Linked DNA regions of Homo sapiens. The protein of the gene in region 1 purifies or fractionates together with the protein of each later gene. This does not show direct contact. Each region holds a gene or a part of one and is shown on either strand. Other genes may lie near its edges.

What was found.
Region 2: the proteins of ELMO2 (region 1) and ANKRD22 purify together in Homo sapiens (co-immunoprecipitation; one large-scale study listed by IntAct). This does not show direct contact.
Region 3: the proteins of ELMO2 (region 1) and CD226 purify together in Homo sapiens (co-immunoprecipitation; one large-scale study listed by IntAct). This does not show direct contact.

What each region holds. Positions count from the first base shown.
Region 1 is NC_000020.11:46,368,616-46,372,269, reverse strand, and holds part of ELMO2 (engulfment and cell motility protein 2), read left to right. Parts: intron 1-300; coding exon 301-464; intron 465-578; coding exon 579-691; intron 692-810; coding exon 811-918; intron 919-1,744; coding exon 1,745-1,827; intron 1,828-3,301; coding exon 3,302-3,379; intron 3,380-3,654. UniProt on the Homo sapiens protein: Involved in cytoskeletal rearrangements required for phagocytosis of apoptotic cells and cell motility. Acts in association with DOCK1 and CRK. Was initially proposed to be required in complex with DOCK1 to activate Rac Rho small GTPases.
Region 2 is NC_000010.11:88,824,326-88,827,979, reverse strand, and holds part of ANKRD22 (ankyrin repeat domain-containing protein 22), read left to right. Parts: intron 1-1,864; coding exon 1,865-1,942; intron 1,943-3,654.
Region 3 is NC_000018.10:69,941,241-69,944,894, forward strand, and holds part of CD226 (CD226 antigen isoform a precursor), read right to left. Parts: intron 1-3,654.

The DNA.
Region 1 (3,654 bases):
GTGACTTGCTGAAGGGACAGAGTCAAGATGTGAACCCATTTCTTTCTGACTACAAAAATCCATGCTCATTTCCCCCACACCATTGACCAATTGAAATATATGGGAAATAAAGCATCTATCAGTGTCAGTCATGTGACCTGAATAACCATCTAAGAAGGTATACCTTACTCACCCAGCAGATGTCTGTAGTGCCTGCCCTGCTCAAGACCCTGGGGCAGGAAAGAGCCTTGGTGCTCCATAATAGGCCTGTCCATTTCTCAAGAGTAGTGGTGTGAGTTGGCTGGGTTCTTCTCCTCTTAGGTTATGCAAGTCGTCCGAGAGCAAATCACTCGAGCTTTGCCCTCCAAACCCAACTCTTTGGATCAGTTCAAGAGCAAATTGCGTAGCCTGAGTTACTCTGAGATTCTACGACTGCGCCAGTCTGAGAGGATGAGTCAGGATGACTTCCAGTCCCCGCCAATTGTGTAAGTTCCATCTCAGGGGAGGCTGGCGGGGGAGGTGGCTGCCAGCTCTGCTTTCCTTCCAGAGCTCCACTGTCCCCATGACCTTCCGCTCACTCCAGTGTGTGTCCACCCCAGGGAGCTGAGGGAGAAGATCCAGCCCGAGATCCTTGAGCTGATCAAGCAGCAGCGCCTGAACCGGCTCTGTGAGGGCAGCAGCTTCCGAAAGATTGGGAACCGCCGAAGGCAAGGTGAGAGGAGACGGGGCAATCCTTGGTGCCGGGAAGAGCCTGCCTGGATGGCCCCTTTTGTGCCCAGGCCTTTCCCAGTACTGTCGTTGCTCACCTGTTTGGCTTCCCTTGTGTTCCAGAACGGTTCTGGTACTGCCGGTTGGCACTGAACCACAAGGTCCTTCACTATGGTGACTTGGATGACAACCCACAAGGGGAGGTGACATTTGAATCCCTGCAGGAGAAAAGTAGGTTCATTTCTCTGTTGATGTGTCATGGTTGCTGGACTTGTCAGGAGACAGGAGTTCTAGTCCAGCTGTTTGTAGCTGATCATCTGGGCTTGTACCTGTTACCTCTCTGGACCTGTTTCCTTATCTGTCAGCGATTTCCTCTACCTGGCCTACTCGGTGGGGTGGTTTGGAGAAACAATGAGTTCACAGGTGTGAATGTATTGTGTAGACTGTAAAGGGTGGTACATGACTAAGTCGAAAGGCAGTAGTTAAGAGGAGAAGCTGTGAAGCCAGACTGCCCACATTCAAATCCTGGCTTTGCTCCTAATTAACTTGAATTCTAATTAATTGCAAGTTCTCCCCTCTGCCTTGGTTTCTTCTCCTGTAAAGTGGGAATAATAGCCACACTTTCCTCCTAAGAGGATTGCATGAGTAATGTATGCAAAGCACTTAGAAGAGTGGTTGGCAGGTAGTCAGCATAACTGTTAGCAGCTGCCACTGCTGTTGGCGATGATGGCATCATCATCGCCATTATTGTGAAGGAGAGGGGAAGGGAGTCACCAAGGTCCCGTTCCTTGGGGATATAAATCCAAGAGCCCTGAAGTGACCCTCAGTTAGCTTTGACACAGCCTCACTGGGCTGTGGTCTACAGGAGTGACCAAGACGGAGGGAACAGTACAAGGCCATCCTCCCCACCACCCTCACTGAGCTCATACAGCAGCCCTTGGAGTTTGGGGCTGAGGCTTCCTATGCATCTGCCCCAGTACCTCCCTTCCAGCACTGATGTAGGCACTGACCAGCTTGCAGCATGAACTTCCAGAGACTAATTCCCATCATTTATCAGTTCCTGTTGCAGACATTAAGGCCATTGTCACTGGGAAAGATTGTCCCCACATGAAAGAGAAAAGTGCTCTGAAACAGAACAAGGTGAGTAGAGAGGCCAGTTTGAGTAGCTGGCCCAGTGATACTTGGAGAGTGCCATTGGTGGTGGTTTTTTCCAGGTGCATTCTTGGCATCTTCCCCTCTCTATTCCTGAATGTTTTATTAAGAATTTTGAACATACACAAAAATAGATGGAACCTCTGTATACACATCACCCAGACTCAGCAACCATGGCCAGTTCTGCCCATCCACTTGTTTCTCTCCTTTATCGCTTTGAAGAAAGTCCCAAGTATCACACTGTTTCATCTGTAAATATTTAGTGTACATCGTATAGTGTATAACATTGCCACCAGTCCATTAGCACACATAACAGGAAATGAAAGTAGTTATTTCAGATCAAATATTCCACTGATGGTGACTTTCTACCAATTGTCTTATAAATGTCATAATTTCTCTACAGATATATAAATGTTTATATGGATACACACACACACACACACACACACACACACACACACACACACACCCCCATACCCATCTTGTCTAAACCAGAGTCTAAGACTGGTCTTTTAAGTTTCTTAATTCATAAGTTCCCCCGCCCCCCCATCCCCCACCATCTTTTCCTTTGCAGTTTATTAGCTGAAGAACCAGATTGCTTGTTTGGTAGTTTCCTAGCATCTGAATTTTGCTGATTGTTTCCCCGTGGTACAGTTTAACTTGTTCCTCTGTCCCAGATCTGTACATTGGAAGAGGGATCTAGAGGTTTGATCCAGTTCAGGTTTAACTTTTTTCCTGGCCAGTGTCATCAGTGGTATTATGTTCTATCAAGAGGCACATAACGTCTGGTGGTCTCTCCTTTTGTGATAATTAGCAGACTGTTGAAGCTCAGTGCCTCATTCCATCAGTCAACTAAGGTTTGCAAACTCATGATATTTTGATGCAGTCATTGCTTTTCATTTATGAGCTGAACCATGAAACTTGCCCTTATCTACTATTGGTTTCCCAGTGGTACAGTTTATATAGGAAACGAGAATAAATGCTGATTCTTCTTTTATGTACTTACTTTCAAAATAATGAGTTAGTTCCTTGGTATCATGCAACAGTGACCAATTTTGTGTGTGTGTGTGTTTTGTTTTGTTTTTTAATTGTTAAGACATTCCTATGCCAAATACAGCACGATAGAAGTTGTTAGTCATCTTGGTAATATAAAAACTTTTAGGATAACTTACAGTCATGGATCGTGACCTTCCAGGGTTCTGAGTGTTGAAAATGACTTTTTTCCAATCTTAAAAATATCACAACATCTTTGATGTGACTTGGGCAGGGAGTGGGTAAGTTAAGGTTGATTTATGCTGGGCCTCATCTCCAGCCACACTTGTGGCCGCCTAGGAGCATTGATGACATTCATCTGAATCAGCATGTTTGGTGATGATGCCGAGTCACTAGGACTTTGGCCAAGATCTTGATGTGCAGACCCCAGGCTGTTCCATCGCTCTAATTTAAACCCTTTCTCCTTCAGGAGGTGTTGGAATTGGCCTTCTCCATCCTGTATGACCCTGATGAGACCTTAAACTTCATCGCACCTAATAAATATGAGGTGAGCAGTGTGGCGCTGCCTTAGACAACAGAGCTATTTCTGTAACTCTTCAGTTGGTGGCAGGAATGAGCAAAACAGGAAAGTCCCCTGTGGTGGGTGGCTGCAGTGTATATTGAAGCCTAGGAAGGCTTTGAGAAGAAGGTGGCATTTCAATAGGATGGGAATGTCTCAAAGGAGGAGCTGTGGTTGGGGGGGCACCCAGATGAAGCAGCAGGTATCATTACATAATGCTGGACCTGAGGTTCCTCCAGGCGCATTGGGTGGCTGCCAAGGAT
Region 2 (3,654 bases), on another chromosome or scaffold:
AGGAGTAGAAGATGAAGCTTGAGATGGTTTTTGGTTTTTTTTCCCAATAGGGTAACAGATCTGCACTGACTTACTCACTTTTATCCATCTAGTTTCCTTTGTGCCCAGTTCCACTTCTCAGACATGACTCAAGAGATGCATAATTTACTTTAATTAAATGACCAAGCTCCCTCCTTGTTGTAGCTCATAAACTGTGAATATTGGTTACACCTGTTAACATCAGCCGCAGAACAAGTCTGCCCGTCAAAAATGTTATTATTTCATTGGGTATTTAAATGCCACAGAATTTGAGGAACTATAATTAAACATGACAATGTTGATTTTTATATTTGGATTTATAGGAGAGAGAAAAGAACTTTAATTCACTAATAAAAATATAATCTGCTCATATCCTCGAAGAATTCTTTAAAAATTCATTATGTATTTAGCACATAGCATTTAAATACATGTATTTTGGGGGCAGGGAGAATCTGTTATTTATTTACAAACATTTTTAGAGATTCTAAAGGTAAAAATTACAACTGTGATTAGAAGGCTCATTCAGAATTTATTGACACACAACTCTGCTTTCTAAGATGGTTCAATGTTTAGAGGCTGGAGGACTGGGCAAAAATAGTAATCGTAATGAATAGCTCAACTCTAGTTTCATGCACGTGCAATTTATTAATGGGGCCTAAAGTTGTAAATTTGTGATGAATTAACAAATAAGTGACATGAGAGGAAATGATAGGGGAGGAGAGAGGAAAGCATTGGGTTATTTCAGAGAAAAGTAGGCAGAGAAAGGCAGTTTAGGAGGTGACACAAGAGGGAAGCCTAAGGAGAGAGAACTGGATGGAGCTTCCCAGGTGATGACAGGGTTGAACTCCAGGGCTATACCCAGCTGAGCAGGGAGAGCTTTGCCTCTTCAGGAGACTGGAAGTTGGGGAAGACTCCAACAGGCTTGTGGTCAGAAGCTCAGGAGACTGGGAAGGAAAAGTGAATTTCTGAGGAGTCCTAGTTCATTTCATTAATTTGTTCAATTCTTTAACGTATGTTTATTATGGACCTACTATGTGCCAGACGCTGTGCTAGCTGTTAGGGACACAATGATGAACAAAATAGGCATAGTTTTTTACCCCATGAGAGTTAGAGGGTGGTGGGGAGAGTCATTAATCAAATGGCACAAACACATGTAAAATTACCATAAAGCGGGTGATACAGAAAGGCGACTGGTGTTAGGATAGCTAAAAAAGAGGGATTTCACCTGGTCAGGTGGGTCAGGGAAAGCTTCTTAGAGAAAGAGGGACTTGGGCTGATGAATGAAAGGTGAATATGCCAGGCAAAGAAGAGAGGGAGGAGGCTTCTAGGCAGAAGGAACTTCCTGTGCAATGATTCTCTGAGAATGAAAGATTAACAAAGGCCAATGTAAGTAGAACAGAGTGAGCCAGGAGGCGCAGAGTGAGAGAGAGGCCAGGGCAGGGCCATACGTGGAGCCAAAACATACGGGGCTTTGTAGGTCATGCTGAAGAGTTTACTTTTGTCCTCAGAGCAATGGGAAGTAATTGCACAGCTTTGAGCCAGGAAGGGAAAGACAGGTACTAGGCCCCATCCTCAGTGGAATTAGGTAGGTTTGGGGTGGGACCTGAGAAGTACATTTCTAAGGTTCTTAGGTGTCAGTGCCGCTACTTCAGGACCACAGTCTGAGAACCTGGCTTTAATTAATTGATATTAGAGTGAGTGAGAAGCTGGGGGAAATTTTAGGAAGGGTGCATGCATGCATAGGAGTGTTGGGATTAAAATGAAGCCTATTGATTAAATAGTCTCAGGCATAAATTGGAGAAACTATTTGTAAATAAGCCTTTCTTATAATTACCATTTGTAATAGGTATCAAAGACAAAGCAGAATGAGGCTCTTGTACGAATGCTACTTGATGCTGGCGTCGAAGTTAATGCTACAGATTGTGTAAGTTTATACTTTTAGCCATTTTGAAAAAATATTCAAAATGGTATTTGTAGGTAGCGTATTTGTCATCTGTACAGTTGCTTTATTTTCCTAGACAATTTTACATTTAGTTTTCTTTTATTTTCTCCTTTTTTTTCCCACTGACAGGCAACCTTGAGGTTATTTATATTCTGCTGAACTCATGGGAATAATACCTCTATTGATTATAAAGCATTTTTAAAATAATTGGCTTTAATGTTGTTGAGACGTTAAGGAAAACTAAGGCTCCGATAACAAAATACCAGCCATAATAGTTAAGAAGCTGGAGTGAGAATGCCCATGAGTAAACTCTGGGCTTGCCACTTTTTACTTCTATGAGTTTGAGCAAGTTGTAAACTTATTTTACTTTCAGTGTCCTCATCGGTAAAATGGGGATATGGATAATACTTATCTCATTGGGCTTGTTCATGTAAAGCACTTAGCACATGCTCAGAATGTAGTAAGTGCTCATTGAATGGCAACAGCTGCCACTGCAGCCAAAATCCCAACCCACTGATGAGAGGCCCCGTGTGCAAACTACAGATAAATAAGACAAAGGTCAAAGAAAAATCCCACTGATGGTAAGAGCAGTGATAACAACAGTAGCAGCATCCGCTCACTTCTTCCTGTTTATGAGCATAAGGTGTTGTTTTCACTTTCACCTCTGTGCTCTTGCACTCATCTTTCTTTCTCAATGATCACAGAAAGACAAAAGTTTATTTCTATGGTGTTTTGCTTATGGTGATTGAATAAAATTTTGGATTCCCAGTTCCTTATTGAAAAAGTAGGCAAGTGGAAATTTGATTCCAAAATACTAACATTCTATTTGTGATGCCTAACATATTTTACGTGTGTGCACATCTGTGTGTATTACCATTGTTTTATGATAGAGACCATGGCCCCATTCCTGTTTCTATCAATTATTTACATCATTTCGGTTTTGCCTATGCTGGTATCATGTTTAAATGCAGGCAGTTGTGTGTGTGTGTGTGTGTGTGTGTGTGTGTGAGAGAGAGAGAGAGAGAGAGAGAGAGCAAAAGAAAATAACTTTATGAAATTTATATTCCCTTTTATTTCAAATAGAACTTTTGGATAAATTTGTATTGACAGTTACTGTGCATTACCATTTCTTTAGATAGCTTTGAAATATATTAAGTAAGAGATTATTAAAGATGAAGTTAAAAGTTTGTTGAAGGTTTTTCTTGGTCTTTTCATTTAAATTCAATAGATTTAATATTCCTGCCTGTGACCAAAATTTCTCTAGGATATTTTCTCAGCAATTTATGTGTATTTCTCTCTCTAGATAGAGATATTGCATTCCTTCAGCTAGGCACAGTGACACTAGCCTGTAGTCCCAGCTACTTGGAAGGCTGAGATGGGAGGATCCCTTGAACTCAGGAGTTTGAGACACATGCAGGTACACACACAGACACCACTTCTAATACCAAAATTTTTTCAAAAACTATCTGAGTATTAAAATCTACTTTCTAGGTAAGACAGTGTTTTGTATTTTTGGATAATTAGACTCTATTTCACATGACAAAATTCAGAGCCAGAACTTCCATTTGTCATGCCACCACTTAATAAAAATAAATAATTGCAACATGATCTCCTATAATTTTAGAGGTGTTTCTAGGGAATGGGATCCAGAGCTAAACCTGTCTTGATAGCCAAAGGTACTATTTCTTCACTCA
Region 3 (3,654 bases), on another chromosome or scaffold:
GCCCCCACACAGAATCCCCACTGGGGCACTGTCTAGTAGAGCTGTGAGAAGAGGGCCACCATCCTTCAGACCCCACAATCTGAATCTGATCCACAGACGGCTTGCACCATGCAACTGGAGAAGCCACAGACACTCAACACCAGCCTGTGAAAGCAGCCAAGAGGGGAGGCTGTACCCTGCATAGCCAGAGGGGTGGAGCTGCCCAAGACCATGGGTGCCCACCTCTTGCATCAGCATGCCCAGGATGTGGGACATGGAGTCAAAGGAGATCATTTTTGGAACTTGAAGTTTTAATGACTGCCCTACAGGATTTCAGACTTGCATGGAGCTAGTAGCCCCTTTGTTTTGGCCAATTTCTCTCATTTAGAATTGGTGTATTTATCCAATGCCTGTACCCCTCTTTTATCTAGGAAGTAACTAACTTGCTTTTGATTTTACAGGCTCATAGGCGGAAGGTACTTGCCTTGTCTCAGATGAGACTTTGGGCTGTGGACTTTCAGTTAATGCTGGAAAGAGTTAAGACTTTGGGGGACTGTTGGGAGGGTATGGTTGTATTTTGAAATGTGAGGGCATGAGATTTCAGAGGGGCCAGGGGCAAAATGATATAATTTGGCTGTTTCCCCACCCAAATCTCATCTTGTAGTTCCCATAATCCCCATGTATTGTGGGAAGGACCCGGTGGGAGGTAGCTGAATCATGGGGCCAGTCACCTTCATGCTGTTCTGGTGACAGTGAGTGAATTCTCACAAAATCTGATGGTTTTATAAGGGGCTTTTCCCCCACCTCACTCTGCACTTCTCCTTCCTGCTGCCATGTGAAGAAGGACATGTTTGCTCCCCTTTTCACCATGATTGTACGTTTCCTGAGGCCTCCCCAGCCATACTGAACTGTGAGTCAATTAAACCTCTTTCCCTTATAAATTACCCAGTCTTAAGTATTTCTTCACAGCAGTGTGAGAATAGACTAATACATCATGTGAGCCAATTTCTTATAATAAATCTCCATGTATATACACATTGGTTCTCTTTCTCTGGAGAAGCCTGACTAAAATAATAGAGATACCAATTAATCCTCCTGCTAGCAGTGTGTAAAGGTTCCAATCTACAGATGCCTATTTGCTTACCTTGCCTGCAAACTCTTACTCTCCTAAAAGACTGCAGCTAGTGTAATCTTTTAGGTGGTGAAAGAAAAATCTGGTTTTATTTTGTGTGTCTCTCTAAAAACTAGTCAGAGATGTCCCCTGGTCTGCATTACAGACAGAAGTCAAAATTCCATTAGGCACATCAATAACTTTTCGGGTTTATTTCTGACATTCTGCTGCCCTAGTGAGCTGCAACTCCTTTTTCAAGCACAGAATCTACTGTACTAAAGCTTTTCCTGAAACTCTAAAGTATCATAAGCTGAGCCCCTTTGCTGGTGCATGCAGGGAGAGAGTCTCACTCTCACAGTGTCTTCCTTTCCTGGGAGGCTGCCTCTCAGGCCACCTCTGTGGGTGTAGGGGGCCTCAGAGCCCAGGGTGAGAACCACATCTTATCCAAATCCAGTGCCCTAGTCAGAGAAGGCCAGGCTCTGCCTCTTACATGAACTTTACACCTCCACTGTGCCCTTCTTTAAGCCATCAGTACCCCCAGGACACCCTTCCCTCTCTGTCTTCTCTCTTCCCCAGACCCCGGCCTCTCTAATTAAAATATTCCTTCCAATTCTTCAAGGTCCAGCACGACTTTTCTCTACCATGGCCCTCCCTGGTTCATTCCACTGGAGTTAAGATCTCTGGCTCTTCAGAAAAATCAACTGGGGTCATTCTGGTGCTGCCACTTGGCAGCTTGATAACCTTGGACAAGTGAGTCTACCACCCTGAACCTCAGTGTCTTCTGTTGTATTACGGGAACATATTACCTCCCCATAGTGCTTCATAAGGATTAAATGAAATGACACGCAGTTGCATCCTACAGAGCAGGCACCCAGTAAACACTAGGTGGCAGAGCATTCTGAGTGGGTCACTCATTTTGGGGGTATTTCTGTAAATGCAACTATATTTGCTTTAACTGACTAATAAAGCCAGAGACACGTAGGTGACAGTAGTTTTCTCCATGACCTCACAAACTCTGCTAGAAAGGGCTATCTGGAAAATGTGGTCCCCCAAGTCATCTCTGCATATTTTCTCACAAACTAGGTAAAAACAAATGCATTTATTCTTACCATCAGAGTCTCTAAATCAATTGCTAATGAAGAAATGCCTGTTCTGGAAAGAACACATATTTTCAAATAACTTTGTATTAGTAGTACCATTTATTCAGAATAAGATGTCCTGTTTGCTCTTAAACTCTAGGCTGAAAGCTGGAGAGGGGTAGCATTGATAGGAGGTACAAAGGCCAAGGTCTCCTTCTTCAAGGGCCCTGGTGGGTTCCCATGTCCCCCAGGCTGACAGTTACATCAATTTGCAACTTTATCTGCTGGGACATACGTGAAACTTAGGGCCTTGGAAAGACTACTAGACCTCACTGCACTTCAATGTCATCATCTGTAAAATCAGGCAATACAAACGTTCAAGTGCACACAGGAGATTCAAGGAGGAAGTCTATGAAGATCCAGACTATGTAAAATTCCGCACATAATAAGCTATCAATAAATAGCAAAAAATCAACATATTTACAGAGCATAGGGCCCAACTCCTTCATCCTTCTGAAGTTCTTACAATCCATTATACAAACTAGGATTTCTAGATTCCAAGTCTTTTTTTTTTTTTTTTTACTATTTAATGTATTTTCAACTCCCCCTTTACAGTATACAAAAGTACAATATTTGCAATCCCAGTATGTTGTTACTGAAGTACATAAGAAAATTTCAAGCACACCTAAGGTTAATTTTGAAATACAACTAATATTTTTTAAACTCACTATCATTCTTAGTTTAAAAAAGTGAAGCTCTCAAACTCTCAAAATAGGGTAGAATGCCCTCACTAGCCCATTGCATCAATCTGCTCTTTAAAATACAAATAATCAAAACAAGAGCAATGGATCATGGCTAAGGATACCATCATGAAGAATTCAAACTAGACGGACAGCCGGTATTCCTTCCTCTGACTGAAAACTGACTGAAAATCTCCACATTGTATTTTTTTAAGCCCCATGAAGGTGACAGCTCTCTTTTCCTAACCTCAAAAACTAGCAGTAATGACAAATCTGGATGAAAACAACAGGAAATATTCCGAAGACTATTCATATGTGATGTTAAAAATCCTACCTTTGCATAACAACCATCATTTAGTTCTCTACAGGTTAGCTCCATCCTCTATCCTGAAAGGTTGAGCTGTTTTCAATTGGTTGTCCTGTGACAGAAACCAAAACAGCTAATTTGGAACCCAAACTTTAAAGGCATACCACACAAGGCAGCAGTGGGGAGTGCATCCTGTTCTAGCTTTGGTGGCTCAGGCCTTGTTTCCAATGGCTCAGTCTATGTTAAAAGCTTTGCCAATCTTCTACTTCGCCTGCCTGACTGATTTATAGCAAACTACACAGTAAAAACTTCCAAGCAGGATTTAACAGGTGTCTACATACAACAGCAAATGAGGACTTGTATGGTGAAACAGAGTCTTTAATAAATAAACATTTAACTAAAGAAACATTGTAAATTGACACTCTATAAGCCTCAGCT